Linked DNA regions of Homo sapiens. The protein of the gene in region 2 interacts with the protein of the main gene of each other region in a biochemical or structural test. Each region holds a gene or a part of one and is shown on either strand. Other genes may lie near its edges.

What was found.
Region 1: the proteins of TXNIP (region 2) and ECD form a complex in vitro, tested with the Homo sapiens proteins (one study listed by BioGRID).
Region 3: the proteins of TXNIP (region 2) and SLC2A1 form a complex in vitro, tested with the Homo sapiens proteins (2 studies listed by BioGRID).
Region 4: the proteins of TXNIP (region 2) and WWP1 form a complex in vitro, tested with the Homo sapiens proteins (one study listed by BioGRID).

The regions. Positions count from the first base shown.
Region 1 is NC_000010.11:73,150,328-73,158,761, reverse strand, and holds part of ECD (protein ecdysoneless homolog), read left to right. Parts: intron 1-2,106; coding exon 2,107-2,194; intron 2,195-2,308; coding exon 2,309-2,487; intron 2,488-4,313; coding exon 4,314-4,506; intron 4,507-6,340; coding exon 6,341-6,469; intron 6,470-7,056; exon of another isoform or gene 7,057-8,434. UniProt on the Homo sapiens protein: Regulator of p53/TP53 stability and function. Inhibits MDM2-mediated degradation of p53/TP53 possibly by cooperating in part with TXNIP. May be involved transcriptional regulation. In vitro has intrinsic transactivation activity enhanced by EP300.
Region 2 is NC_000001.11:145,993,556-146,002,328, reverse strand, and holds the start of TXNIP (thioredoxin-interacting protein), read left to right. Parts: upstream 1-5,749; 5' UTR 5,750-6,062; coding exon 6,063-6,312; intron 6,313-6,584; exon of another isoform or gene 6,585-6,767; coding exon of another isoform or gene 6,768-6,852; coding exon 6,853-6,925; intron 6,926-7,037; coding exon 7,038-7,185; intron 7,186-7,297; coding exon 7,298-7,400; intron 7,401-7,528; coding exon 7,529-7,785; intron 7,786-7,891; coding exon 7,892-8,048; intron 8,049-8,161; coding exon 8,162-8,313; intron 8,314-8,442; coding exon 8,443-8,478; 3' UTR 8,479-8,773. UniProt on the Homo sapiens protein: May act as an oxidative stress mediator by inhibiting thioredoxin activity or by limiting its bioavailability.
Region 3 is NC_000001.11:42,948,517-42,956,950, forward strand, and holds part of SLC2A1 (solute carrier family 2, facilitated glucose transporter member 1), read right to left. Parts: intron 1-8,434. UniProt on the Homo sapiens protein: Facilitative glucose transporter, which is responsible for constitutive or basal glucose uptake. Has a very broad substrate specificity; can transport a wide range of aldoses including both pentoses and hexoses.
Region 4 is NC_000008.11:86,463,752-86,469,642, reverse strand, and holds the end of WWP1 (NEDD4-like E3 ubiquitin-protein ligase WWP1), read right to left. Parts: intron 2,850-5,891; coding exon 2,750-2,849; 3' UTR 1,140-2,749; downstream 1-1,139. Other genes in the region: RMDN1 (regulator of microtubule dynamics protein 1), read left to right, coding at 936-967. UniProt on the Homo sapiens protein: E3 ubiquitin-protein ligase which accepts ubiquitin from an E2 ubiquitin-conjugating enzyme in the form of a thioester and then directly transfers the ubiquitin to targeted substrates.

The DNA.
Region 1 (8,434 bases), on a different chromosome or scaffold from region 2:
TCTATTTTATTTTATTTTATTTTTTTGAGACAGGCTCTCACTCTCTTGCCCAGACTGGACTGCAGTGGAACAATCTCGGCTCACTGCAACCTCTGCCTCCCGGGCTCAAGCAATTCTCTTACCTCATCCTCCTGAGTAGCTGGGGCTATGGGCGTGCACCACCACACCTGGCTAATTTTTGTATTTTTTGTAGAGACAAGGTTTCACCATGTTGGCCAGGCTGGTCTCAAACTCCTGACCTCAAGTGATCCACCTGCCTCAGCCTCCCAAAGTGCTGGGATTACAGGTGTGAGCCACTGCGCCCAGCCTATTTTTAAAATTGATAAATAAAAATTTTATATATTTATTATGTATAACATGTTGTCTTGAAATACATATATATTGTAGGATGGCTGAATTGAGCTCATAACGTACATTACTTCACATACTTATTTTTTTGTGTGTGGTGCGAACATTTAAAATCTACTGCCTTAGCAAGTTTCAAGAACACAATACATTGTAGGCCTGGGGCGGTGGCTCACATCTGTAATCCCAACGCTTTGGGAAGTCGAAGCGGAAGCATCACATGAGGTCAGAAGTTCGAGACGAGCCTGGCCAACATGGTGAAACCCCATCTCTACTAAAAATACAAAAATTAGCCATGTGTGGTGGCCCATGCCTGTGGTCCCAGCTACTCGGGAGGCTGAGGCAGGAGAATCACTTGAGCCCAGGAGGTAGAGGTTGCAGTGAGTGTGATTGCACCACTACATTCCAGCCTGTGCGACAGAGTGAGACTCTGTCTCAAAAATAAAATAAAATAAAATAAAATAAAATAATAAAAATAGAAGTATAGAGCTAGAACGATATATAACAGTATATAAAATATGCCATGTCTTGTGTAAAAAAGGGAGAAAATACAAGTATATATTTCTATAGTTAGATTATGTGTAAGCAAACTCTAGAAGGATATACAAGAAACAGCAGTGATGCATGTAGGGTTGAGCAGATAGGGACAAAAGTAGGAGGGAGACTTTTTTATTTTGTAACTTTTTTTTTTTTTGAGATGGAGTTTCGCTCTTGTTGCCCAGGCTGGAATGCAATGGTGCGATCTCGGCTCACCGCAACCTCTGCCTCCCAGGTTCAAGCAATTCTCCTACCTCAGCCTCCCGAGTAGCTGGGATTACAGGCATGGGCCACCACGCCTGGCTGATTTTTTTTGTATTTTTAGTAGAGACGGGGTTTCTCCATGTTGGTCAGGCTGGTCTTGAGCTCCTGACCTCAGGTGATCCGCCCACCTCGGCCTCCCAAAGTGCTGGGATTACAGGCGTGAGCCACTGCACCTGGCCATGTAACTTTTAATACATTTTTTTAAAAAATGTAACCATGTGAATGTATAACCTATTTTAAAAAATTAAATTTAAAAAAGTGATACGGGCCGGGCGTGGTGGCTCACACCTGTAATCCTAGCACTTTGGGAGGCTGAGGTGAGCGGATCACTTGAGGTCAGGAGTTCGAGACCAGCCTGGGCAACATGGCGAAACCCTGTCTCTACTAAAAATACAAAAATTAGCTGGGCATGATGGCGGGCACTTGTAATCCCAACTACTCAGGAGGCTGAGGCAGGATAATTGCCTGAAAACAAGAGGTGGAGGTTGCAGTGAGCCGAGATCATACCACTGCACTCTAGCCTGAGTGACAGAGCGAGACTCCGTCTCCAAAATAAAAAAAAAAAAAGTGATGCAAATGAGGCAGAAATAATTATCTTTTCAGGCCCAAATAACACCTCCTACATGAAGGCTTTTCTAATCTCAGCTATGTGTTTCTTTTTTTTCTTTTGGAACCCTATAGTACTTTCGTATATTTTCATATTTTTGTCTAATATTTCTTTATGTAAATTGCTTATCTTCTCTCCTTATCATATCTACCTTCAACTCCTCCTTACAATCTTACAGTCTCCTTCAGTGCTTAATGTTATCTTAAATATTTTGCTTTCTTATAGCCATCTGCACATAGTACATACTCAAATATTTACTAAGATGAAGAGGAAAATGTATTAGAATGAAACTGTTTTGGTTACTAGCAGATATATGCTTTTTGAATGCAAAATTGGAAATTTTCTTGCATTAGGATTGAAGACAATGATGGTGAATTCTTGTTAATAGAAGCTGCTGACTTTCTCCCTAAATGGCTGGATCCTGAAAATAGCACCAATAGGGTAAGTATACCCAAGTTTAGAAAATTTATAGAGATGAAATCATGCTGCATTACATTCATATGTACCTGCAGTTTGCCAGTGCCCACTGTGAAAATTGAAATGTACCGTTTGCAGGTATTTTTCTGCCATGGGGAATTGTGTATTATCCCTGCACCAAGAAAATCTGGAGCAGAATCTTGGTTACCCACCACACCCCCAACAATTCCACAAGCATTGAATATAATCACAGCACATTCAGAAAAAATACTTGCTTCAGAATCTATACGAGCTGCTGTGAATAGGCGCATCAGAGGGTAAGAAAAATATCACTTTCATTGCTAATTAAGGAACCTTTTGGTTTCGTGTAGTTCAGTCTTTCTTTGATTTTTGTTTGTTTTCCTTAAAGCTCTGTTGGAGTTGATCAGTCTTTCTTTGACTATAAAATACCTTTCACCTAGATTAATGCTAATTTTCATTTTGTCTTCATTCCTCTTTATGAAATAGACTAGTAAATTAAACTTACAGATTTTAAAATCAGGAAACAGATACATCTTTAAATTCCCATTCAGAAGTGTTACAATCTTGTCCCAATATTTTTGCATTTATTTACCTTAGATATTGTGGCTAAGTATTAGCTATATCCATGGGTAAAAAATTTGAGACCTTTAAAAATAGAAACTTCATGGGCCTGGAGCGATGGCTCACACCTGTAATCCCAGCACTTTGGGAGGCTGAGCAGGGGGCGGATCATGAGGTCAGGAGTTCAAGACCAGCCTGGCCAACATAGTGAAATCCCATCTCTACTAAAAATACAAAAACAAAATAGCAGGGCGTGGTGGCAGGTGCCTGTAATCTCAGCTACTTTGGAGGCTGAGGCAAGGAGAATCGCTTGAACCCGGGAGGCGGAGGTTGCAGTGAGCTGAGATCACGCCACTGCACTCCAGCCTGGGCGACAGTAGGAAACTCCATCTCAAAAAAAAAAAAAAAAAAAAAAGTAGAAACCTAATGGAGCACAAACAAGGTGCTCAGGTTTTTTCTGTTGTTCTGGGTCTGTATATGGGATTCTTTGACCTATGTCAGAATTCAGTTTCTGAATAAAACTTTAGCTTTTATTCAGAAAAGAAAGGTCTTAGCCTAATTACATATTCGTTCATCCATTCAAATTTGGGTGCCTATTAAATATTAAGCACCATTCAGGTATTAACAATATTAAAAATATTTTTGGCCGGGCGCGGTGGCTCACGCCTGTAATCCCAGCACTTTGGGAGGCCAGGGCGGGTGGATCACAAGGTCAAGAGATCGAGACCATCCTGACCAACATGGTGAAACCCCGTCTCTACTGAAAATACAAAAAATTAGCCGGGCGTGGTGGCAGGCCCCTGTAGTCCCAGCTGCTTGGGAGACTGAGCGCAGGAAAATCACTTGAACCTGGGAGGTGGAGGTTGCAGGGAGGTGGAGGTTACAGTGAGCCGAGGTTGCACCACTGCACTCCAGCCTGGCGACAGAGCGAGACTCCGTCTCAAAAATAATAATAAATAAAAAATAAAAATCTCTTTTAGCTTCAGCATACTTTGTACCATTCTTTTAGAAGAATAAACTCTGATTTTATCTTTATTCCAAAGTATAATAGGTATTTTTGTTTTGTTTTGTTTTTGAGATGGAGTTTTGCTCTTGTCGCCCAGGCTGGAGTGCAGTGGCGTGATCTCGGCTCACTGCAACCTCTGCCTCCCGGGTTCAAGCGATTCTCCTATGTCAGCCTCCCGAGTAGCTGGGACTACAGGCGTATGCCACCACGCCCAGCTAATTTTTTGTATTTTTAGTAGAGATGGGGTTTTACCGTGTTAGCCAGGATGGCCTCAATCTCCTGACCTCGTGATCCACCCGCCTCAGCCTCCCAAAGTTGTTTTGTTTTTATAGAGCTACAATAATCCCTTTTCTTTATTTTCCATTTCTTCCTACTTTTTTCTTTCCCTCTCTCGTATATTCTTAAGTGTATATACAGTATCTTTTTTCATCTCTCTTGTCACTCTCTACGTACTGCTCTTGATGAACAAAGAGATGTCAAAAAGAATGTGAATGGTATAAGAATTATAGGTATTTATATACTGTAAAATGAAAGTAATTATGTTACCTGTCCCAGGTACCCAGAAAAAATTCAGGCCTCACTTCATCGAGCACACTGCTTCCTTCCAGCTGGCATTGTGGCAGTGCTAAAGCAGCGCCCCAGATTGGTGGCTGCAGCAGTCCAGGCATTTTACCTACGAGACCCTATTGACCTGCGAGCTTGTCGTGTTTTCAAGACATTCTTGCCTGAAACACGAATAATGACATCGGTGAGATTTCTATCTTGGTCATTTAGTTTCTCTTACTGGAAACCGAGTTGAAACATTATTATTTTTTTCTTTTTACATTTCTCAGTGCTCAGTGAATGAAACATTATTTTAATTGTTCTCTAGAAAAAAAAGGAAATATTCTGTTTCTTCATAGCATGTTAATATAGATTGAATATTCCTTATCTGAAATGCTTGGGACTAGAAGTATTTCAGATTTCAGATTTATTTGGATTTTGGAATATTTGCATTAAACTTACTACTTGAGCATCCCAAATCTGAAAATTCTGAAATCTCAAAACTTTGAGCATATCGTTGGGACTCAAAAAGTTTTGGATTTTGGAACATTTTAGATTTCAGATATTTACATTTGGGATGCTCAAACTATACACGTTTTTTCTTTTCTTGCACCCAGTGAAGGAAATTTTCAAGAGACCTGCCTCCCCATTTTATACTCAATGTTTTATAGCTATTTTTGACCATATGTTTCTATTTCTATAATTATTTCCTTTTTTTTTTTTTTTTTTTTTTTTGAGACAGAGTCTCACTCTCTCACCCAGGCTGGAGTGTAGTGGAGCCATCTCAGCTCACTGCAACCTCTGCTTCCTGGGCTCAAGCGATTCTCCTGCCTCCCGAGTAGCTGGGATTACAGTCACCTCCCAACACGCCCAGCTGATTTTTTTATTTTTAGATGGTGTTTCGCCATGTTGGCCAGACTGGTCTCGAACTCCTGACCTCAAGTGATTCACCCACCTCAGCCTCCCAAAGTGCTGGGATTACAGGTGTGAGCCACCGCACCCAGCCTAATTATTTCCTTCTTAACAATAAAACATTTCATCTCTTCCAGAGAATTAAGAATTATTCTTGGCCGGGCATGGTGGCTCACACCTGTAATCCCAGCACTTTGGGTGGCCAAGGCAGGTGGATCACTTGAACCCACGTGTTTGAGACCAGACTGGGCAACATGGTGAACCCCATCGCTACAAAAAATAAAAAAATTAGCTAGGTGTGGTGGTGGGCGCCTGTAATCCCCGCTACTTCGGAGGCTGAGGTAGGAGGATTGCTTGACCCCAGGAGGTTTGGGAGGCCAAGGTGGGCAGATCACCTGAGGTCAGGAGTTTGAGACCAGCCTGGCCAGCATGGTGAAACCCTATCCCTGAGGCTTCAGTGAGCCATGATTGCTCACTGCACTCCAGTCTCTGCAACAGAGCAAGACCCTGTCTCAGAAATAGAAAAAATGAATTATCTTTATCTTCCAGCCATTTAATTGCTGTATAATGTAACTAATGATAAGAATTTTACTAGCGATTACTAAAAAGTAGGCAGTAGGGTAAAATTTTTTTTGCAACAGTGTCTTGCTCTGTTGCCCAGGCCGGAGTGCAGTGGAGCAATCTCAGCTCACTGCAACTTCCTCCACCTCCCGGGTTCAAGCAATTCTCCTGCTTCAGCCTCCCGAGTAGCTGGGATTAGAGGCGTGCGCCACCATGCCTGGCTTATTTTTGTATTTTTAGTAGAGATGGGGTTTCACCATGTTGGCCAGGCTGGTCTCAAACTCCTGACCTCAGATGATCTGCCCACCTTGGCCTCCCAAAGTGTTGGGATTACAGGCATGAACCACCATGCCTGGCCAGCAGTAGGGTAAATTTTATGGTATGTGAGTTGTATCTCAATAAAGCTGTTACTAAAAACAAGTAGGCAATGAATAGGTTGAATCTTCTTTGCATTTCATATGAATATGAAGCTTATAAATGGACTTCTCATTATATTTAACTGTGAAGTGTTATTCACAATCTTAATTTCAGGAAAAGACTCATGTATTTTGTGTCTTGATGCCCAGGTCACATTCACTAAATGTCTATATGCACAATTGGTGCAACAAAGGTTTGTGCCAGACCGGCGGAGTGGATACAGGCTGCCTCCTCCATCTGATCCCCAGTACCGAGCCCATGAATTGGGCATGAAATTGGTAATGTTGAACCAGAAAATGTTGTTTCCTTTCTTTATGTAAATGGACTCTTAATAGAATAGTGGCACAATATACAAAGTCCAGAAATACACCCTGTTTATGTAAGAATGCAGTAAAATGTGGCATTTCAAATTAGAATGAAAAAAATGGATTACTTAGTAAGTGATGATGGGACAAGTCTGAAGTCATCTGAAAAATTGAAGTTGATTCCCTAATACCTATACCAAAATAAATTCCAATTGGATCAAATATTTGAACATAAAAATTGAAACTATACAATTTGAAAAAAAACCAAGAACCTTTTATAATTTGAATAGGAAAGGCCTTTCTATGCATGACTTGAAACCAGAAGCTATAAAGGGAAGACTGATGAATTTGATTATGCAAAAATTAAGCATTTCTGCACGGGAAAGAAAAACTCCATAAATAAAGTCAAAAGCAAATCTGGAAAAAGTGTTATATTTGCAATCTAAATGAAAAAGAGCTGACTTCTCTAATACATAAAGTGTTCCTTTAAGTCAATATGAAAATGATAATACTAGCCAATTAATTTTAAAATGTTCAGAACTATGAACATAGTCCACAGAAAAGGAAATACAGGTGACCTTTAATTTAAACATATGAAAAATATTGAATCTTAACTCATAATAAAAGAAATGCACTTTAAAGCTACAAAATAGTGTTTTTCTTTTTTTTTTGTTTGCTTTCAAAAATGTTACAATCTAGACATTGATAGGAATGTCTAGATTTTCTTTTTTTTTTTATTATTATGCTTTAAGTTTTAGGGTACATGTGCACAACGTGCAGGTTTGTTACATACGTATACACGCGCCATGTTGGTGTGCTGCACCCATTAACTCGTCATTTATATTAGATATATCTCCTAATGCTGTCCCTCCCCCCTCCCCCCACCCCACAACAGGCCCCGGTGTGTGATGTTCGCCTTCCTGTGTCCGTGTGTTCTCATTGTTCAATTCCCCACCTATGAGTGAGAACATGCGGTGTTTGGTTTTTTGTCCTTGCAATAGTTTGCTGAGAGTGATGGTTTCCAGCTTCATCCATGTCCCTACAAAGGACATGAACTCATCATTTTTTATGGCTGCATAGTATTCCATGGTGTATATGTGCCACATTTTCTTAATCCAGTCTATCATTGTTGGACATTTGGGTTGGTTCCAAGTCTTTGCTATTGTGAATAGTGCCACAGTGAACATACGTGTGCATGTGTCTTTATAGCAGCATGATTTATAATCCTTTGGGCATATACCCAGTAATGGGATGGCTGGGTCAAATGGTATTTCTAGTTCTAGATCCCTGAGGAATCGCCACACTGACTTCCACAATGGTTGAACTAGTTTACAGTCCCACCAACAGTGTAAAAGTGTTCCTATTTCTCCACATCCTCTCCAGCACCTGTTGTTCTCTGACTTTTTAATGATCGCCATTCTAACTGGTGTGAGATTACCATCTCATTGTGGTTTTGATTTGCATTTCTCTGATGGCGAGTGATGATGAGCATTTTTTCATGTGTCTTTTGGCTGCATAAATGTCTTCTTTTGAGAAGTGTCTGTTCATGTCCTTTGCCCACTTGTTGATGGGGTTGTTTGTTTTTTTCTTGTAAATTTGTTTAAGTTCTTTGTAGATTCTGGATATTAGCCCTTTGTTAGATAAGTAGATTGCAAAAATTTTCTCCCATTCTGTAGGTTGCCTGTTCACCCTGATGGTAGTTTCTTTTGCTGTGCAGAAGCTCTTGAGTTTAATTAGATCCCATTTGTCAATTTTGGCTTTTGTTGCCATTGCTTTTGGTGTTTTAGACATGAAGTCCTTGCCCATGCCTATGTCCTGAATGGTACTGCCTAGGTTTTCTTCTAGGGTTTTTATGGTTTTAGGTCTAACATTTAAGTCTTCAATCCATCTTGAATTAATTTTTGTATAAGGTATAAGGAAGGGATCCAGTTTCAGCTT
Region 2 (8,773 bases):
CAGGCGTGAGCCACCACGCCCAGCCAAAAAGAACTATCTTAAATGAGCCTACAATACCTCCAAACAAGTTAATTCAGCCCCTCTCCCCATCTTGCCATGACATTGGACAATACTGAGATCTCTATCCTTTGCTTATCATGGTAGAAAAATTGATCTCAGTAAACACGAAATGTGGGCCTCCAGATGAGATATTTTTAAAAGTTAAAACTAAATTAACAAACAAGATTGGACATGGTGGCTCATATCTATAATTCCAGCACTTTGGGAGGCCAAGGTGGGTGGATAGCTTGAGCCCAGGTGTTCCAGACCAGCCCAGGCAACATGGCAAGACTCCATCTCTACCAAAATATATGAAAATTAGCCCGGCATGTGCCTGTAGTCCCAGCTGACTCAAGAGGCCAAGGTGGAAGGATCACCTCAGCCCTGGAGGTTGAGGTTACAGTGAGACATGGTCATGTCACTGCACTCCAGCCTGGTGATGAAGTAAGACCCTTTCTCAAAAAAAAAAATTAGCTGAGTATGGTGTGTGTTCCTAGTAGTTCCCGCTACTGAGCTATGCTTGTGCCACTGTACTCCAGTCTGGGCAACAACAAAATAAACAAATAGATAATAAAGAGAATCCTGGGTTTGGAGAGTGGCTCCACCAGATACTAGCTTATGTCCCAGGTCAAGTCACTTAACCAAAATAAGAACTGGTTTTAAAAAAATAAAAGACTGCTACAGTCCCATTTAACTCTAAAATTCTCTGAGTCTTGCCCTGAATCCTTTATTAGACTATTGTGAGAATCAAACAAGATACTGTGTATCAAAGCACTGAGAGCCAAGACAACACATTTTTATAGTACATACTTTTAGACAGACATGGGCGGGTTCAAGATCTTGCTCTACTTACAAAATCTGTGACCTCAGGCAAATTACTTCACTTCTGAGCCTGACTGAACCAACACCGAGTCACAAGGTTATTGAGAGAATTAAATGAAACAATCTAACCTCAAATACTTTCTTTTTTTTTTTTTTTGAGACGGAGTCTCGCTCTGTCGCCCAGGCGGGAGTGCAGTGGCGCAATCTCGGCTCACTGCAAACTCCGCCTCCCGGGTTCACGCCATTCTCCTGCCTCAGCCTCCCGAGTAACTGGAACTACAGGCGCCCACCATCACGCCCGGCTAATTTTTTTTGTATTTTTAGTAGAGACGGGGTTTCACCGTGTTAGCCAGGATGGTCTCGATCTCCTGACCTCGTGATCCGCCCGCCTCGGCCTCCCAAAGTGCTGGGATTACAAGCGTGAGCCACCGCGCCCGGCCAACCTCAAATACTTTCTAGAACAACATGACAGATGACAGATAATTATCACTGACATAATTATATAAAAGACTTGGTTCATTATAGGTGCTCAATAAATGGCAATTACTTAAAAAGTCACTTGGAACTCTAACATGCTATACAATTCTTTTTTTTTTTTTGAGATGGAGTCTCACTTTGTCGCCCAGGCTGGAGTGCAGTGGCGAGATCTCGGCTCACTGCAAGCTCCACCTCCCAGGTTCACGCCATTCTCCTGCCTCAGCCTCCCGAGTAGCTGGGACTATAGGCGCCTGCCACCACACCCGGCTAATTTTTTGTATTTTTAGTAGAGACGGGGTTTCACTGTGTTAGCCAGGATGGTCTCAATCTCCTGACCTCGTGATTTGCCTGCCTCAGCCTCCCAAAGTGCTGGGATTACAGGCGTGAGCCACCGCGCCCAGCCTTTTTTTTTTTTTTTAAAGAGAGATGGGGTCTCACTACAATGCCCAGGGTGATCTTCTTGAATTCCTGGCCTCAAGTGATCTTCCCATTTCAGCCTCCCAAAGTGCTGGGATTACAGGCATGAGCCACCACACCTGGCTTACAATTGTTAATTTATTCTTATTGATCTATGACTTGGGGCAGTCTTCAAACTCTTAATTTGCCTCTAAATTCCTTAGGGAAAAAATTGAAAGGGAAAAGGGTGCCTATAATCCCAGCACTTTGGGAGGCCGAGGTAGGCGGACTGCTTGAGCAGGAGTTTGAGACCAGCCTGGCCAACATGGTGAAACCCCATCTCTACCAAAAATACAAAAATTACCTAGGCGTGGTGGAGCACATCTGTAGTCCCAGCTACTCGGGAGGCTGAGGTGGGAGAATCACTTGAGCCTGGGATGCGGAGGTTTCAGTGAGCCAAGTGACACTGCATTCCAACCTGGTTGAGAGTGAGACCCTATGTGGAAAAAAAAAGAGAGAGAGAAAGGAAAATGGGTAAGGGTAAAAGGGAAGTTTACAGAGTAGAGGTGAGAGAAGTGATTAAAAGGACCAAGAAAGGGCTTTGTTCTGCATTAAGAACTATGAGTCTTCATGTTCTAAATGTTTGTCAGGCCAGAGGTTAAAGAAAAGAGAAATGCAATCAGTGTCTTGTCTCTGACTGGCAACAAAGTGCTGAGGGCACTTCCCTCCCTGAAACTGCTGGCTTTATTCTGTCACCTGCAGTAAAGCAAACAAACAACAATCACCACTTGGTTTCCTGTTGGCACTGGGACTGAAGAGGGTAGAGAAGGGGCAGATAAAGATGATCCAACTTGCAAAACTCTTTGACTGTGCCCTACTTTGCTGTTCCTCCTTGGCCCACCCCTTTTCCCAAACCTCACAAGTGTTTTTATACCCTGATTTTAGGACAAGAGTTTACAAAATTTCTTTCTTCTTAGACCCAAGAACTGGGAAAGGAGAATCGGGGCAGGTTTTTATCAGAATACCAGGTTACAAGGTGAAAGGTCGTAAACAACCGTGTCCAGGAGGACTCCACTTCAGAACATGCCTTGGCTACAGGCCTGGTAGGCAGCAGCTGCTGCCAAAGCTAAATAATTTTTTGGCATTTAAAGGAACCCAGGCATAACACAGAGCAACGTAGTCTGTAGTGAGCTCTGCAAATGGGAAGATACAAGGAAACCAGAGCCCAGAAGAGAAACTTAGAACGAGAGAATTGTCATAGGATTTTTTAAAACTCAGCAATTCAGTACTTCAGAGATGTGCCCACATAAATATCAAATAAATTGAAAGGGAAAAGGGTGCCTATAATCCCAGCACTTTGGGAGGCCAGGTAGGCGGACTGCTTGAGCAGGAGTTTGAGACCAGCCTGGCCAACATGGTGAAACCCCATCTCTACCAAAAATACAAAAATTACCTAGGCGTGGTGGAGCACATCTGTAGTCCCGGCTACTCGGGAGGCTGAGGTGGGAGAATCACTTGAGCCTGGGATGTGGAGGTTTCAGTGAGCCAAGTGACACTGCATTCCAACCTGGTTGAGAGTTGGATGTCTTAAGATGTCCCATATTACCACCACCCTGATCCATCACTAGCCACCATCTTTCCTATTCCCTCAAAATGTATGTAGTTAAGATTTAACAATATTTAACAATATTGACTATGTAGTTAACAATATTGATTCATATATTTGTCAGCATTTTGATGTTTGATAGTTACACTTTCATACCCATCAAACTAAACGTTCTCCCAGAAGCCACAATTTTGAACTTTTAAAATTACTTCAGTCAGGCCAGGCACGGTGGCTCACGCCTGTAATCCCAGCACTTTGGGAGGCCAAGGCGGGTGGATCACCTGAGGTCAGGAGGAGTTCAAGACCATCTTGGGCAACATGGTGAAACCCCATCTCTACTAAAAATACAAAAATTAGCTGGGCGTGGTGATGCATGCCTGTAATGCCAGGTACTCAGGAGGCTGAGGCGGAGAATCGCTCTAACCCAGGAGGCAGAGGTTGCAGTGAGCTGGGGTCAGGCCACTGCACTCCAGCCTAGGCAACAGAGCAAGATTCCACCTTAAAAAAAAAATTACTTCAGTCAGAGTTCCACCTCCTCTGCTCCCAGTAACTCAATCAATATTGTTAACCAACTGAAAACACCTCAAGCCTAGCTGGTTAAGTTTCTAGAACAGGGTGCCGCCTCAAACACACCCTAAGGATCAACATGTTCCTGGGGTTTAATGCATGTGTGTGTTTTCGAAGAGACTCATGATGCCTATTCTTGAGCTTGCTTAATATTGGGGTTGAGTTGTAACTCTCGTTAGCCTTAGAGTGTCAATCCAGCTAGGCTGTCTGAGGAAGGAAGAAGGCTCTTTAACAGCAATGAATATTGTTTTTTTTTTGCTGATTGGGTAGGGTTTCAATATACTTGAATGCTTCTTAATTACCTCCCCATCTCAATCTTGGGACATTATCTTCCTCTTTCCAGCACAAGGAATTAAATAATAATCTTCTGATACCCCAGCACAGATATAGGAAGGGTCTATGAATCAAATAAAAGGAGGAAGAATCCCTGCACTTTTGCATACAGGTTTTTCCTATTACATTTAAGAGTAAGTTCTCAGTACTCAGCTCCTAAAGCATCTCACAGCCAGCAGGGGAAAATCCATCTGACAGCTGGCCAAACGAAACCAACAAAGAATGAAGAGAGAGGGTAGGGTCTCTTCTGGCTTGAATTTATAGTGCTCTGTTGACCGATCTTTCTTCTCTTTTCCTTCTTACTGTTTTCTAAACCGTTTAGGGAAAAACCTTTGAAAATAGTTTTTAAAATTGTTCCTTCAAACAGGTGTGTGGCCATCTCTCCACTGAAAATTTGGATATAAACAAGAGGACTTTCTCACTTTTAACCAGATTTATGGATGTACATTTGATTTAGTGAGTTGGAAGAGGGGATGGAGACAAGAAAGAGTGAACATAACTGGAAAAAAGTGAAAAGAGTGAAGCATCCTTTTTTTCCCGCTTTTCCTTTTCCTCCAGAAGCAGGTAGGAAGTGGGAGATAATGAGCGCCTGGACACACCTCACTAAAGAGGTAATGAGGTAAATGGGGAACACAGACAAAGTGTTCCCCAACTTTGCAGGTAGAAATTGAAGAGATGACAGGATAAGCAACAGGATGTAAACACGCCCCTCCTATTTCCGTTCCACAGAACAGAGAGAACAGAAGAGAGGGTACAAGCTGGGGGTGGGTGACGAACAGCACAGGCACGCAGCCCCCAGCCCTAGCCCCAAGGGATTGGAACGGGAAGGAGAAGACATCGGTCCTACACACACAATGAGGCCTGAAAGTTCTCCTTTCCCTCAGAGACGGTGGTGTTTTTTATACTTAATAGGGATGCGGGGCAAGAGAAGGACAAAGGGCTGTTCCTGAACAGTAACACCAAGCATTCTGCGCTCCACAGCCCCAAACCTGAAAGTATTCTTGGAGCTATGGGATTTTCACACACTTGCTATTTATGAGCCAGGAATAACGACAGGCTCTAAAGTAACTGCACTGGCTAAGACTAGGCATGAAATTCCCTCATAAGCACATTTTCCTTTTACCTCAAAACACCGCTCTCAGACCAGAAACGTCCACACCCGCCCTCCGATGGCCTGTCGCCCTGGCTAGGTTTTAGGGTCAGTGGGATCCTCCTTCCACTGGACCCGGGAGAAGACGCTCAACAGCCCCCTCCTTCCCCTCCTTCCTCTCCTTCCTCTCCTTCCCCCCTCCCTGCGCCGCTCCAGAGCGCAACAACCATTTTCCCAGCCAGGAGCACACCGTGTCCACGCGCCACAGCGATCTCACTGATTGGTCGGGCTCCTGGTAAACAAGGACCGGGCAGCCAATGGGAGGGATGTGCACGAGGGCAGCACGAGCCTCCGGGCCAGCGCTCGCGTGGCTCTTCTGGCCCGGGCTACTATATAGAGACGTTTCCGCCTCCTGCTTGAAACTAACCCCTCTTTTTCTCCAAAGGAGTGCTTGTGGAGATCGGATCTTTTCTCCAGCAATTGGGGGAAAGAAGGCTTTTTCTCTGAATTAGCTTAGTGTAACCAGCGGCGTATATTTTTTAGGCGCCTTTTCGAAAACCTAGTAGTTAATATTCATTTGTTTAAATCTTATTTTATTTTTAAGCTCAAACTGCTTAAGAATACCTTAATTCCTTAAAGTGAAATAATTTTTTGCAAAGGGGTTTCCTCGATTTGGAGCTTTTTTTTTCTTCCACCGTCATTTCTAACTCTTAAAACCAACTCAGTTCCATCATGGTGATGTTCAAGAAGATCAAGTCTTTTGAGGTGGTCTTTAACGACCCTGAAAAGGTGTACGGCAGTGGCGAGAAGGTGGCTGGCCGGGTGATAGTGGAGGTGTGTGAAGTTACTCGTGTCAAAGCCGTTAGGATCCTGGCTTGCGGAGTGGCTAAAGTGCTTTGGATGCAGGGATCCCAGCAGTGCAAACAGACTTCGGAGTACCTGCGCTATGAAGACACGCTTCTTCTGGAAGACCAGCCAACAGGTAAGCGGCCCAATTCATTGTTGGAGGGTGAAAGCTGATTAGAGAAGAGAATTGAATACACAAAACCTGTACGAAATGTTTTAAGTTGCTCAGTTTGAGTGGTTTGAATTACGTGTTGTTGCTTCCTTTTTTCTGTTTTAATTTGCAGACATTCTCCTCCCCCCCCAAAAAAAAGGGTGATTTGTACAATTTTTTATGGTGCTGTGTCCTAAAGGGGATCCTGAGGGGCGTTGCCTCGGGTAGTTAAAGTCTTATGTGTGCATAAGTTGCTTATTCTTTGTCTACTTCCTATTTGAGATGTTAGTAGAGAACTGTCCTGGGTGAATCTTTCAGTATTGCAGGGCTTGGCAACTTGCTGCCCGACAAAATACATCAGAATTTCTCTTTAAGAACAATATGGGATGGATTAAAAAATATATATATGGGATGAAATTGGGGGTACTTCAATACCTTGCATGCCACCCAAGCATTCCTTATCACACAGATGCATTTTAAGTGTAACAGCAAGCCTAATGGCTACTCGATTTTCTTTCCCTTCAGGTGAGAATGAGATGGTGATCATGAGACCTGGAAACAAATATGAGTACAAGTTCGGCTTTGAGCTTCCTCAGGGGTAAATATCAGCTAAATGCATCTTTGAACTTTTCTGTCTAAAATATCTTGCCCTCCTTTGATCACTTACTGTTCTTGGAGAGCGTTTTAAAATTTTCATTTTCTTGACACAGGCCTCTGGGAACATCCTTCAAAGGAAAATATGGGTGTGTAGACTACTGGGTGAAGGCTTTTCTTGACCGCCCGAGCCAGCCAACTCAAGAGACAAAGAAAAACTTTGAAGTAGTGGATCTGGTGGATGTCAATACCCCTGATTTAATGGTGAGATCCATTTTAAAGATTCTATTCTCCTGGGTCATGAGGATGATAAATCAGACGTCTTGGGCATTAGATTGAAGCATCTCAAAACACCTTTTTATCCCCTTCTATATAGGCACCTGTGTCTGCTAAAAAAGAAAAGAAAGTTTCCTGCATGTTCATTCCTGATGGGCGGGTGTCTGTCTCTGCTCGAATTGACAGAAAAGGATTCTGTGAAGGTAAAATCCTAGTGCTTATGGCAGTTAAAACAGGAACTGGGTTTAGGGGCAAGGGCATGGGACTGGGGTAGAGGAAGTGTCATTAACTATACTGAGTATCAGTAAGTTTTCATCTTTCTCATTGCTAGGTGATGAGATTTCCATCCATGCTGACTTTGAGAATACATGTTCCCGAATTGTGGTCCCCAAAGCTGCCATTGTGGCCCGCCACACTTACCTTGCCAATGGCCAGACCAAGGTGCTGACTCAGAAGTTGTCATCAGTCAGAGGCAATCATATTATCTCAGGGACATGCGCATCATGGCGTGGCAAGAGCCTTCGGGTTCAGAAGATCAGGCCTTCTATCCTGGGCTGCAACATCCTTCGAGTTGAATATTCCTTACTGGTGGGTAGATGCAGGGTGGCTTCAGCAGAGAAATTGTTCATCTGTTACCACAGCTGTCTTGTTTCTCCAGACCTCTGGTGTAATAAACTGCCATCTTCCTTTCTAGATCTATGTTAGCGTTCCTGGATCCAAGAAGGTCATCCTTGACCTGCCCCTGGTAATTGGCAGCAGATCAGGTCTAAGCAGCAGAACATCCAGCATGGCCAGCCGAACCAGCTCTGAGATGAGTTGGGTAGATCTGAACATCCCTGATACCCCAGAAGGTGAGCCAGACCTAATGTCTTTTCTTTGTTTCTGGTCTACCTGGGTTTGTAAAATTGTGATGGTCCAGCATTTCTTGGGCAGGATTCTTATGTGGCCATATTTTCTTTTCTAGCTCCTCCCTGCTATATGGATGTCATTCCTGAAGATCACCGATTGGAGAGCCCAACCACTCCTCTGCTAGATGACATGGATGGCTCTCAAGACAGCCCTATCTTTATGTATGCCCCTGAGTTCAAGTTCATGCCACCACCGACTTATACTGAGGTGAGGATTGTCATCTTTACTGTTAAATTTGTCCTAAGCTTTCTATAAGAAGTTGACTTAGACGGATTGCTAAACTGGTTTGTTCTTTTTGTTCTTACCTGAACTGAAATAGTCTGTTTCTTTCTTTAGGTGGATCCCTGCATCCTCAACAACAATGTGCAGTGAGCATGTGGAAGAAAAGAAGCAGCTTTACCTACTTGTTTCTTTTTGTCTCTCTTCCTGGACACTCACTTTTTCAGAGACTCAACAGTCTCTGCAATGGAGTGTGGGTCCACCTTAGCCTCTGACTTCCTAATGTAGGAGGTGGTCAGCAGGCAATCTCCTGGGCCTTAAAGGATGCGGACTCATCCTCAGCCAGCGCCCATGTTGTGATACAGGGGTGTTTGTTGGATGGGTTTAAAAATAACTAGAAAAACTCAGGCCCATCCATTTTCTCAGATCTCCTTGAAAATTGAGGCCT
Region 3 (8,434 bases), about 100 Mb from region 2:
TGCTTAGTCCACGGCTCAAAGGAGTGGGGGAGGGGTTTACCTGAATCCATGACAGCTCCCTTTTAATTTGTTTTGTTGTGTTTCTTACTCATTTAAATGAACTTCTGGGCATTAAAAGAAAGAACCTCAAGGCTGGGCGCGGTGGCTTACACCTATAATCCCAGCACTCTGGTAGGCCGAGGCGGGCGGATTGGTTAAGGCCAGGAGTTCCAGACCAGCTTGGCCAACACAGCAAAACCCTGTCTCTACTAAAAATAGAAAAGTTGGAGCCGGGCACGGTGGCTCACCCCTGTAATCCCAGCACTTTGGGAGGCAAGGCGGGCAGATCACGAGGTCAGGAGATCGAGACCATCCTGGCTAACACGGTGAAACCCCGTTTCTACTAAAAATACAAAAAAAAAATTAGCCCGGCATGGTGGCGCATGCCTGTAGTCCCAGCTACTCGGGAGGCTGAGGCAGGAGAATGGCTTGAACCCAGGAGGCAGAGCTTGCAGTGAGCTGAGATCGCGCCACTGCACTCCAGCCTGGGCGACAGAGCAAGACTCTGTCTCAAAAAAAAAAAAAAAAAGTACAAAAATTAGTGGGGTGTGGTGGCACATGCCTATAATCCCAGCTACTTGGGAGGCTGAGGCAGGAGAATAGAATCACTTTAACCTGGGAGGCGGAGGTTGTAGTGAGCAGATATTGCACGACTGCATTCCAGTCTGGGCGACAGAGTGAGACACTCTCAAAAGAAAAAAAAATAAGACAGCTTTGGCTGCAATAAGAAAGAAAGAAGCTCAAGAAATTGCAGACTGCTGTAACATCGGCACTTGACAGGAGGCACCTGAGGTCAGAGGGCAGGTGCCCAGCCTAGCATACAAACAAAAGCCAGGGTTGGGACTAGAGTTGTTTGGTTTCCTAGCCTGGCATTCTACCCTCTGACCGGTTCCATCCTGCCAAGCCTTTTAAAAAAGAAGAGTGATGGACTAACAGTCCAAAACCTGACCTTAGGGTGACCTCAAGCATTAAGTGCTCCTGAAGCCACTTCCTTTAAGCCTTCCAATGATATCAAGACCCTTGCATGACTGAACCTCCAGACACCCCTGGTTGCCCTCGAGGCAGAAGGCACTCGCCAGTCTTCAAAGTAGAACTGAGAGGAGGGGGCTGGTGCATTTAGCAGCAGCAGCAGCAGCGAGCTGAGGCACCCTGCCAGAGGCTGCTCACACATTCTGATTAACCACCATGAACAAGCTTTTGGGGAGCGATTACTCCCTTTTCACAGATGAGAAATGAGAGAGAGGGAAAAGCGCAGAACCAGGGGACTCTAGGCTTCAGGGAAGTTTCCAATTGGGGGTCTCTGATGCCAAATTCTATGGCTTTCCTGCTTAGGTCCTCCCCCTTGTTTCCGGGTACTGGTCCCTGAAGGAAACAAGGTTTCTACCTGGTGCTTTCTATGTAGGTCAAATTCCATAAAAGCAACTCTCTGAGCCTTGCCCACTCTGAGCTGAGACAGCCCGGGCACAGGCTCAGAAACCTTTGGGCCACTTTGCTGCATTTGCTATAAGCCAAAGTTGGCAAACTATGGCAGCTAAGAATGAGTTTTACATTTTTAAGTAGCTGGGGAGAAAAAAAAGACAATGACTAATATTTTGTGATATGTAAGAATTATATTAAATTCACATTTCAGTGACCATGAATAAAGTTTTATTGGAACACAGCCACACTCATTTGTCTACAGCTGCTTTTGTACTGCAACAGCAAAGCTGAGTGGCAGGCCGAGAACTACATGTCCAACAAAGCTGACAATATTTACGCTCTATCTGGCCCTTTAGAAAAAAGTTGATCGGCCTCTGCTTTAAGCCCCACGTCCCCTGAGCTAGCTGCCCAGCATTCTCAAAGCCTTCCAGGCAAAACCACATCCTCCCTAAATAACCGAAAAGGTATGCATCCTATTATGGAATGTTAAATGTAAATGGCTCCTTGGCCATGTGTGGGTGTGGGGCCAGGATCTGGACCCTGGGGAAACTGACACCCCTGAGAAGATACACATTTGGTGGTGAGATGGGCAATAATTCAACTAAGAGAACATTAATTTGGTAAGATTGGGCACATGCAAAGTTCACTGTCACTCTCAGCAGACACATTTAAGTCCCAGCTCCTCCACTTGTGTGACCTTAAAAAAGTCCTTTCCTGGCTGGGCATGGTGGCTCACGCCTGTAATTCCAGCACTTTGGGAGGCTGAGGTGGGCGGATCACCTGAGGTCAGGAGTTCAAGACCAGCCTGACCAACATGGTGAAACCCCGTCTCTACTAAAAATACGAAAAATTAGCTGGGCGTGGGGGGCGCGCGCCTGTAATCCCAACTACTCGGGAGGCTGAGGCAGGAGAATCACTTGAACCCGGGAGGCAGAGGTTGCAGTGAGCCGAGATCGCGCCATTGCACTCCAGCTTGGGCAACAAGAGTGAAACTCCGTCTCAAAAAAAAGTCTCTTCCTCTAAGCTTCAGTTAATTCTCCATAAGAGAGGATCTTCTATGAATAAATGATATTGCTAAGGAAAGATTATGCCTGAATGCATGCTCCCAACACTCTTCTAGTCAATGGAAATTCAGCGATAAAACTATACCAAATCCCTGCCTATGGAACTTGATAGGTTAGTTGAAGGCTGGGGCAGAAAATAAATACATGTAATACATCAGGTGGTGAGTGGTATGAAGAAGGTGATGGGGCTGCTATTTCTTAATCATGGTGGGACATGCCTGTAATGAAGTATTATGCAGCTATTGGAAAGAATGAAACACATCTGTGTTTCACATAACATGTATGTGTTATGAAGAGTACCAGGGTAGATTGTTCAGGGGGGAAAAAAAGCAATAGGATGTACATATTGTGTAAGGAACAGGGAGTTAGTGAACTTGTATAGTGGCACTTGGTTGTATGTGCAGAGAGAAACACTGCCAGTATTTACCTCTAAGGGTTGGTTTGGTGAACAGAATGGGTTGCAAAGAACTATGCAGAAAGTGGGATCCAACTACACAAATATTCTATTTATAGGCATGTATCTACACATGCACAAAGAGAAGTCTTTAGGGTAAACACCAAACTGTCAAAACTAGAAGACACTCTTTCATTTATTATGCTTCTCTGTAGTTGGCTCTGTAACTTCTGAAGCTTTTTTTTAATCCAATTTTTTTTCCAGTCACATCTAAGAACTTTATTGGACACAGCTTGGATGCCAGGACCTGGTAGGCCCCACACACTGCCTGCTAGGCCCTGGACTGTCCAGGGCTGGAGTGAGGGTAGTTCATGCAAGGAAGTGTCAGACCACATGGTAACCCCACAATGCAACACTGTGGTTAGAGACTTTATATAGCTGGGAGATGGAGGGCTGCCCCACAGATGTATGAACAGGTCCAATCTTCCATAAATAAACCTACAGAAGAGAGAAAATTACACTGGAATTCATCCTTAGACGCAGAGTACCCTAGATGGGAGGGGGCATCCTCACTGGTCAGGGGGCCAGGATGGGTGATGAGGGGGCCCAGATATCCACAGCATGGGGCAGGCAGGGGCAAGGATGGGGTCAACAGATGATGGGCATTTGCACTAGGACACTGCATTCACAAGACCAACTACTGAAGGGATATGTGTCTCAGGCTGTTCATTCTGGAATAAGCAGGGGTGATCTTTATATCACATTCTGTGGCTGGTGGGCTCAAAGGCTACTTTGTGGAGAGAATGAGACCATGCAGTGAAAATGAGGATCAGGATCAAGCCCACAAATAGCCCGGGCTTCTAGGCAGCACTGTGTCCCCCACAGTGCTGATGACATAGCTGGCTGCCGGGCCACTCAGGCCCACACTCAGCCTAGCGCTTGGCTGGAGGAGATTCCCGTAGAGGCTGATGCAGTCGATCAGCGAGTTGGGGATAAGGACTTCCATCACCAGGTTGTAGATGGTGATGATGCCAGCCATGACCGCTGGGACACTGGACTTCAGGATCAGCTCCAGCCGCATAAGGGCCAGGGCCACGAGGCAGTGCTGCTCTAGGCTGTGCCACAGACAGCACACAGGGCTGTGGGATGGAGGCAAGGCGAGCCCAGAGCAGAATCTGTTTACCTGGGGCCAGAACCCTCTGGGAATAGCTTCTGCACAGCTGTGAGGGCCACACCCAAGTTATCACACGCAGCAGGGAGCTGAAGGCAGCCCCCACCTAGGGGCAGGAAGTCCTCAAGAAGAACTGCCACAGCTGGGTGATCAAGGAGCCCAGTGTAGCTGTTTGTTTCTTTCCTTGAACTGGGCCCTCCAGCCCAAGAGAGTCCACCTCTTCCTCCAGCAGAGGTGCTTATGGCTAGCTGGCCTGTCTGGGCTCCCACTGTGCTATGAAACCCAATCTGTGCTGCTCAGCACTCCCCAAGCCTGCTGCACAGACCACATGCTCCCCTGGAGCCTCAGTGCCGCTGACCCAGACAGCTAGCTCTCATCCCCAGTACAGCTGAGGACACAAGCTCCAACAAGAAGTGTGGCTGGCCTAAGGTCCAATGGTAGAGCTGTTTCTGATGGAGCCGTTTCCTCCCCACTCCCAAATGCCAGGGCAGGGGGAGATAAACTGGGCTAGGAGACATAGGCAGACTTCCTGTCCAGCAGAGGCCTCAGTAGCCAAAGGCTCCATCAGCTGAGGCCTGGCAAGAGCTCTCTCCCATTCCAGGGTGCAGAAGCCTCAGGGAGGCAAGTCAGTGTGGTCACAAAGAGAGGAGATGCTGTCTTCTTTCTGCCCAGGTTCAAGGCCTGGGAGCCCTGCTCAGTTACTGCAAAACCCTAATGTTTATGCATCAGCTACTGCCAGGCCTGGTGGCTGGAAGACAGAGCCTCAGGCTCCAGTCCACCCCTCCCGTGGAGAGAGGTAACAATTGGAGGCTTGTTAGGGTAGCCAGGGCTGGGCCTGCAGGCCTGGACACAGCCTCTCTGAGCCCATGAATCTGGTCAGGAGGCCTCCCAGCCTCCGCCATCATGGGGACGTCGGTTACCAGACTGCAGACTGAGTGAGCGGCTTTATCACCTTTATGCCCAGGAGTGAGGTGGGGGAAGGGGTGAGGTTGCAGGCCCCAAGCCAACACTGCACACTTTCCTCTTTGTTCCAGGCCTCCCCAGCTTTGCCAGTCTTGGGGAAGCAGGGAGCTGGATGGCTGTACCCTTGGTACTTGAGCAGAGCTCTGGGCCGACACCCCGTGACCAGGAGGCACTGGGCAAAGCTGAGCTCCTTGAAGTCACAAGCTGATTACGGGGGATTTGAGGCTGGCCCAGCTCCGGGGCAAATAGGGTCGAATCCCTGGATGGCTCGGTACTAGACAAGGATCATCTTGGGGCTGTTTACATCATTTGTACACCCAGACTGGCCTTACAAAGGGTCTTTCCACTTAAAATAGCCACTTCTCTAATTTAGGGCACGGGGCCAGTCTCACCACATCCACTGGGGGTAGCCAAGTCTCTATTTACTGAGAAGGAAACCAAGGCTCCAAGGAAAGCCACTTCTTCAAGGTCAGAGTTTAGTGGGAACATCTAGTGTTTTGTTTCCATTCACAGTAGAGTTTCAGTTGTCAAGTTACGTCTAATCCAACTTTCAGGCTCCTATGGCATGGCAAGTCCTGTGTCTGGGGATTCCTGCTCATTTGGGGTGGGTGGAGGATGGCACAGACAGGCATGTGGAGAAGAAAGCATCTTTAAAAAAAAAACACAGCTAGGCCAGGCGCGGTGGCTCACACCTGTAATCCCAGCACTTTGGGAGGCCGAGGTGGGCGGATCACCTGAGGTCTGGAGTTCGAGACCAGCTTGACCAACATGAAGAAACCCCATCTCTACTAAAAAAAAATACAAAAAAATTAGCCGGGCATGGTGGCACATGCCTGTAATCCCAGCTACTCGGGAGGCTGAGGCAGGAGAACCACTAGAACCTGGGAGGCGAAGGTTGTGGTGAGCTGAGATTGTGTCATGGCACTCCAGCCTGGGCAACAAGAGCGAAACTCCGTCTCAAAAATCAAAACAAAACACAGCTCCATAGAACGCCTCAAATCTTTTGTGATAGCCTTATCTCGGACAAATCTCTTCCCTTCTCTGGACTCAATTTCCCCATTTGTCAAATGGAGGGCTGGGCCATGGCTGGAAGGCCCCTCCTGCTCTGGGTTCCTTCCACCCTCTAATGTCATCCTGGAAAGGCTGGCAGCATGTCTTGGGGTGGGAGGCTCAGTGTGTGATCTTGGCAAAGTCATTTTTTATTGGACCATGAGGTCACTGTAACTTGTATCACAGGGCAGTTGTGAGGACCCTTGGAGTTAATGGACATGAATGTCCCTTTCAAACTATCCCAAGGGTGACCCAAATTCAGAAAGGTAGGCAGGAAGCCTAAGGCAAAAAAGCAAAGCAAAGAAGCCCAAAGCAGCGCAGGGCACTCACATGAGCTGACCCTCCCTGGCCTGGCACTCTCACCCATGTGCCATGCCTACTCACTTCCCAACAAGCCCCTACTAGGAAGAATGGGTTAGTGGGAGCTTTAATGATTTACCTGACTTAATACCCATGGGCCAGCATCCTGACTCCCCAAAAGCTCATACTGCCAGAATGCCAGCTTTTGGATAAAGGCCAAGGCCCAGGTACAAGTCACCCACAGCCCAGGTAAGGCATCATGGGAGTCCAAGGAAGCAAGAAATATTTATGGAGCATCTATGGGGACAGAGACGTACATTCTTTTCTGAATTCCTAGACACTGTAATGATGAAAACTGGGCAACTAAGCTAAGCTGGGATTCAAAACCACATATGCAAACATCTATGTTTGGCCGGGTGCGGTAGCTCACGCCTGTAATCCCAACACTTTGGGAGGCTGAAGTGGGCGGATCACCTGAGCTCAAGAGTTCGAGACCAGCCTGGGCAACATGGCGAAACCCTGTCTCTACCAAAAATACAAAAATTTAGCTGGGCACGGTGACGCATGTCTGTGGTTCCAGCTACTCAAGAGGCTGAGGTGACAGAATCGCTTGAGCCTGGGAGGTAGAGGTTGCAGTAAGCCAAGATACTTGCCTGGGTGACAGAGTGAGACCTCGTCTCAAAAAAAGACAAAAAACAAAAAACTATGCTGTCTGCACCACAAAGGGGCTGAGAAAGCCTGCAGATTTCTGATTTTTCCTTTTCTGGAAGGTAGAGACTGGCCAGAAAAGTGATGAGTGATGGGCATAGGCAAGGCTAGTTACAAGTTCTTCACGAAGGGTGGGGTGAGACATCTGGGGCAGGGCTCACCCTTGCGTGCTGCCCAGGAGAGATCGTGGGCGAACCCCTGGCTTGTAGGCAAGGTGATTCCATCTGTCCCCTACTTCCTATTCAGCTAAGCTCATTACTGTGAGTTACAGAGGAGCACAATGGAACACGGGGAAGTTAGTTAAGTCAGTTCCCATTTCCTAGGAGACAAAGAGGAACATAGCAGAACCAAGGCTTTGGAGCCAGACACACCTGGTTTTCAGATCTTGTGTGAAAGGCAAGCGATATGACCTCCCCAGGCCTCTAACATCATGCACAAAAAGGCTGTGCTTGCAGGTCAAATCAGCAGTCTCCAAAGGGAAGGGCTTTATTCCAGAATGTATATGGAATGATCTACACAAGATTTGGAGGGGAAAATGACTATAACTGCTGTCTTGTATCTATCTGTCTTTTGAAATTTCTATTTTATGAAGGCATATCATCTGTTAGTATCAAACTGCATGTGCATGAATTTAAAAATACAGCCGGGCGTGGTGGCTCACGCCTGTAATCCCAGGCCTGTAATCCCAGCACTTTGGGAGGCCGAGGCGGGCAGATCATCTGAGGTCGGGAGTTCGAGACCAGCCTGACCAACATGGAGAAACCCCGTCTCTACTAAAACTACAAAAAAAAAAAAAAAAAAAAAAAAAACATTAGCTGGGTGTGGTGGCACATGCCTGTAATTCCAGCTACTCGGGAGGCTGAGGCAGAAGAAACGCTTGAACCCGGGAGGCAGAGGTTGCAGGGAGTTGAGATCGCGCCATTGCACTCCAGCCTGGGCAACAAAAGCGAAACTCCGTCTCAAAAAATAAATAAATAAAAATAAAAAAATAAAAATACAGATACACCACTGTGAAAGAGGTGTTCCAACATTAATTACTGACGAGGTAGACAGTGGAAAACTTGGAGAACACTCCATGAAGAGCACCCACCTGCTACACTATTTAGAACCAGCTGGCACAAGGGGCCACCTTTGAAGATAGGCAAACTCTCTCCCTTCTGCCCAAAATTCAAGAAATGTTGTGGTGAAGAGAGACAGTGGAGACAGAAATGAAATTAAATCTGATGGGCCTGGGTTCAAATCCAGTTCAACCACTTACTAGCTGTGTGACTTTGGCAAACTTATTTCCCTTCTCTGAGCTCCAGGCTAGTGAGTAACCAGCAGGGC
Region 4 (5,891 bases), on a different chromosome or scaffold from region 2:
ACCAAACATTCAGACTTAATAAGTCTACAATAGGCTGTATTTGGCACCAGTCTACTCAGAAGGCTATAGGACAGGAACCACACAGCTCACCAGCAGGACAATTTTGAACCTCCTCTCAGAAGACGGTCTTCTAACAGCAATCTATGAAATGGTATCTCCCCAGGTGACAGCTCACGGTCCTCCTTAAAGGACATACAGTTACAAGAGTTTTCCACTCAGGTATGCCCAAAGCTGTGGCTTTCTGTCGTGTATCTGGAGATTTCCCAGTCCAGATGCAACTTACCAGTCAGGGTCATATTTACCAAAAGCAAAGCTGCATGGCAATAAATACAGTTGACACATACCATCCTATTTAGTTGTCAGGGTAGGAAGAGCTAGGTAGTTAACAGAAGTCATCAGGGGAAAAGGTTTTGTTAACCTTTTCATTTTCAACTACTTGGGAAGTACATGGGGGGGGCGGGACAAACAAACAAAAAAAACACTGGTAAGCTGCTTTCCCTGGAAGACAAACAACTAAACTGATCTAACAGATAGAATTGTGTTGCTTAACTGATCTAACAGACAGAATTGTATTGGGCCTGTGAGCTATTCCCTGGGCCATTTACTGGTGGTGGGGGTGGGGGAGTCACCAAAATGAAGTAGCAATATAAACCTGTCTCTGAGCCTCCCTCTTGTCTGTTTCCTCATGAACTGTGTTTTGGGCACAGAGAGTCTTGCACTCCTAATTTCTTTCGGTTAGTCCAGCACAGAACAGGAATGGGAAGGGAAGAAGGGGAGAAGGTGAGTGGGGGACCATATTTCTACAGTTTTTCTGACTGCTACTGGGTAGATAAATCAAGAGCTCTGCCTGTAGGTCTTGGATATCTATAATTGGGTATGAAAAGTGGAAGACCCTGATGAATTCTCCAAAACAAAGCTGGTTTTGTCTCTTGTAGGGTTCTGTGTAGCCTCACCTAGTGCATCGTAATTTCTTACTTGAGGGAGACCAGCACCCTGAAAACGAACTGGAAAGCTGCCTTCTTCAGTCAAATCTGCTAAATCATACCTACAATGAATGATATTCAATAACTTCTGTCATGGCAAAATTTATACAGCAGTGGTACCATTTGTAATTCTAATACTTAACTCTTTTATGGTATACGCAGTCCTTTTTGAAGGCCAGTTTCCCTCTATCACATAACCTGTCACATACATTAGAATTTTTTTTTTAATTCTTTAGGCTTGAAAATTACCAGAGTGTTCATAATAAGGATTTGGAAAAGGAGTCTATTCAACCAAGCAGATCTCTGCCTTTCTTTCGTCTTTACTATGAATTCTGAATAAAATGGAGAACACACTCTCAATATGTAGAAAAATAAAATTTTGGCAAAACAATAATTACTGTTTTTCTGTATGTACTTAGCAGTGAAATATTTATAGGCAACAGATTTTAAGAAGTCAGTTCCATGGCTATTAAAAAATGTTTAAGTTAATGAAATTTACAGTGCATATTAAAAGCATGATACAAATGGAAATTTAAAATTTTGTATTAGGAAGCCCAGTTTGCTAAAAGTAGCATTAATATCATTCACATCAGATTTTAATTTGTTACACATTTTTGTAGTTCAGCAAAGGCCCCTATGATGAAAAACAATTAAAAAGTGTTATGACAAAAATAATTATCTGTGTAAAAAGGGGGAGACCCAAAAGATTTTTCATATGGTTATTTAATTCAGTTAAATAGAACTGTTATGAATTTGAGAGGAATGAAGATATTCAAACACTAACAGAAAATCATTAGCCTTATATTAGAGCATTCAAATGCTTATGTAACTCTTCAATCCATCTGGCTTCATAAAAACCAAAATTTTGAACACAAAAAAGTGGCAGAGTTTACATTACCTTTTGTATGTTCCTAAGTATGAAATTGCATCAATTTATTATGAATTAAATTTGAAAAGCATCACAGATTTAAAAACAAAGTACAAAAGAGCCTGATTCTTTTTAATTCCACAAATACCTAGCATCTCAAAGTAACATGTAAACAAACTTCTATGCTGCTCAATGAATCCTTCCAATTTCGATAATAAACTAAATAGTATTGGATCTAGTATATGACTTTCATGTGTAAGTTATGGTTCTATCCATTACTTTAACAATATTACTGATGTAACAGAGAAAAATTTTCAACTATTGTATTTATTTAAAACAAACTGACAAGTTCAAGCACCTGTCTTCAGAAAAGCCAGCAGCATTTTTTTTTTTTTAACATACTCAAAGTAAGATTTGGCCTAAGCCCTTAATACCTTTCTGAACAGCCATGCAACTAAACACCCTCAGGAGATGTTACATAAGGGAGAGAAGAACATGGAGCAATTTGCACTTTTTCCCCTAGATAATATTAACAAGGTAAAGCAAATCCAGATCTTTATGAATGAATGGCTGTCATGTTTAATACACTTGGAGCTCTATAAAACTAGAGCCACTATCATATATGTTTATATAGATATATATGTATTTTTAATAAAGTCTCTCACTTGCTTCAAAATTTAAGGATGATCTTTTTCCTGGTCAGTCATTTCAAGGGAACAATAAATAAAGTAGAAAAGGATGAACTGTTTTGCATATTTCTGTGGAAGAACGGAAAACATACTTTGAGAGGTTCGGAAAATTCACTGTACAGAATGAACAGCTTATATACACTATCTGTGCAATTTTTCTTGGCTGGGGTATTTAAATGCAAGAGCTCCTCCAAAATAAGAAGCCACATTCATTCTTGTCCAAATCCCTCTGTCTCTTCTATTGCAAAAAGAAGTTTTTCCTTTAGTTGTTCATAACTCTTATATGGTGGTAGATCCAAGCGATTAAAACTGAACAGAAACAAAAACAAAATCAGATGTTTTCAATAAAATGAAAAAAATCTAATAGAATACTTTTCAAAGCACATAGAAATGCTGAATGGATATATGTATACTATATATGTTAAAATTTTGCCAGAAGTATTTAGAGTAATCTAAATTTAAGACTTACATATAAAAACTATTTTAACATCTCCAAGAGGAAAATGGAATTACAAATAATAAGTGTAGCAATATGGATAAAGACAAATTTAAAAAAAAAAAAAAATCCATTTTCTTTTTACTATTCCTGTTACATGTGTCATGAGTCCTCTTAACTTCTCTTAGGATAAGAGTCCATTTCTTTCATCCACTCAGTCACTCATTCATCAGTCATTTACCGAGAATTTTTTATATAACTGATAAGCTAGTGATACAGTGAAGAAAACTAAAATCCCTGTCTTCATGGAATTTACATTCTGGGGTAGAGACAGTCAATTAACAAATATATATGTTTCTTTGTCTTTTCAAATAATCTAACCACATATATAAACTCTTCTAAAATGACACTTTTTCAATCTTGCCATACTCAATTCCATTCTGGTATTAACTGATAAAAATTTTAAAATACTAAAAAATGCTTAAAATAACTATTATTTTTCAGTTTACAAAGGTGGAATAACATTTCGTTTTGTGAGGTACAGCACTGAGTAGCTAGATTAGGATTCGGGTGTTCAGGGTTTTGGTCCCTACAGTAGCAGTGACTAGTGAGATAGCCCTGAGTAAGTCAGAACCCTTCTGTACCTTCATTTTCCCATGTGGAAGGTTTCTAGAGATTATCCAGGTGCCTTCTTACCACTGTCACCACTTTCCATGTGCCCTTGACCCTCCCATGTCAGAGTCAGGAAAGAGCCTTTGAAACAAGGCATCTAAATAAAACAGTGCTGTTCTAAGACTGTATTCTTTGTATTTTAAATGAAGTTAAAGATATTAATAGCAGCAACTAAGCAGACCATATACTGCCCTCCCCTTTATACTTCAAGGTAGAGTATGATAACAAGGTCAGAAAAAAAAATTATTTTTTAATACTTCCTATACAAGACAACCAGTCACTTTCTGTTCTCTTACATCTTTCACATATAGCCTTTGCCAAATTCTGTCATTCTATCTACCAAATATTCCATTTTTTCTCCTGATTATTTATTTGGAGACAGGGTCTGGCTGTGTCGCCTAGGCTACTGTCTCGGCTCACTGCGACCTCGACCTCCCAGGCTGAAGCAATCCTCCCTCCTCCCACCTCAGTCCCTGGAGTGGCTGGGAGTACAGGCGCATGCCACCATGGCCAGCTAACTTTTGTATTTTTTTTTGTAGAGACGAAGTTTTGTCATGTTGCCCAGGCTCCTCCTCATCATTTCTACTGCCACTACATCCCTTTGTATATGCTTCCCCATCATCTCTTACCTGGACCATCAGAGAATTCTTTGGGTCTATTTGTTTTGTTTCTTTTTTACTTTTTGCTAAAAAGACATACCAGTTTATGCCACTCTTCAAAAACTTTTGCTGCTTTCGAGTTGCTATGGGTGGGGAGGGGGCTGTGGTGGGGAAAGGAAGCTTATGCTCTTTGCTGTCAACTTGTTTCATGCTCTAATCCAAGTGAGCAATCCAATTTTGCCTAGCAATCTTAGCCGTGTTCCTCTAATGAATACTTGCCTATTCTCTAACAATTCTCCCAATTCCTTCTTTCTCTCAAAAGTTTTTCCTTTCTTCACTCTTAGCCAGTGACTTCTCCTTATACTTTGAGAAAACAGAAATCAGTGGGTGGTAATTACTTTCCTTTCACAAAATTTGAAATCTATTTTAATTCTCCCTTTGACTCAAAAATCTCTCTCTCAATACACACACACACGCGCGCGCATGTGTGTATACATATGGATCTATCACTTTTATTGAAGGCAGAGGTCTTCAAATTTTGGTCACAGGACTCCTTTTCACTCTTAAAAATACTGTCAACCTTGGCTGGGAGCAGTGGCTCATGCCTATAATCCCAGCACTTTCAGAGGCCAAGGCAGGACAGCTTGAGCCCAGAGTTTAAGACCCACCTGGGACAACACAGCAAAACTTTGTCCCTACAAAAAATTAAAAAATTAGCCAGGCATAGTGGCGTGCACTGGTGGTCCCAGCTACTGAGGAGGCTATGGCAGGAGGATTGCTTGAACCCAGGAGGTTGAGGCTGCAGTGAGTTGTGTCTGTGCCACTGCACTCTAACATAGGTAACACAGCAAGACTCTATCTTGGGAAAAAAAAAATGGATTTCCAACTGCAAAGAGCTTTTATTTATATGAATTATAGCTACTGATATTTACTGGATTAGAAGTTAAAACAGAAGTTTAAAAAATATTAATTCACTTTGATATGAAAATAAACATAACATTTTAATGGGAAAAACCCAACTACTTCCAAAAAAAATAGTGGAAAGAGTGATTTTGTTTTAGTTTTGGAAATCTTTTAAATATCTGGTGTAATAGAAAACATATGGATTTTGATATCTAGTTGTACATTTAATCTATAGCCCCACACAGATAAATAGTTAGAAATGGAGATTACTCATCTTGTCAGGTAATTATGGATATTATTCTTTGATACTAAATTTGACAAGGGAATGCACAATATGGGTTTGAAATCAAGTCAAAGAACACTTTGTACTTTGTTATACAAAATCTACTGTTTCCTCTTCTTGCACTTTTTGATCTTTTTTTTGTTTTTTTTGAGACAGGGTCTTACTGTGTCACCCAGACTGGAGTGCAGTGGTGTGATCATGGATCACTGCAGCCTTGACTTCCCCGGCTCCAGTGATCCTCCCACCTCAGCCTCCAGAGTAGCTGGGACTACAGGTGTGTGCCACCACACCCGGCTAATTTTTGTATTTTTTGTAGAGATGGGGTTTCACCATGTTGCCCAGGCTGGTCTCGAACTCCTGAGCTCAAGCGATCCTCCCACCTCGGCCTTCCAAAGTGCTGGGATTACAGGTGTGAGCCACCGTGCCTGGCCTGTCTTGCACTTTGAAAATAACTTTTA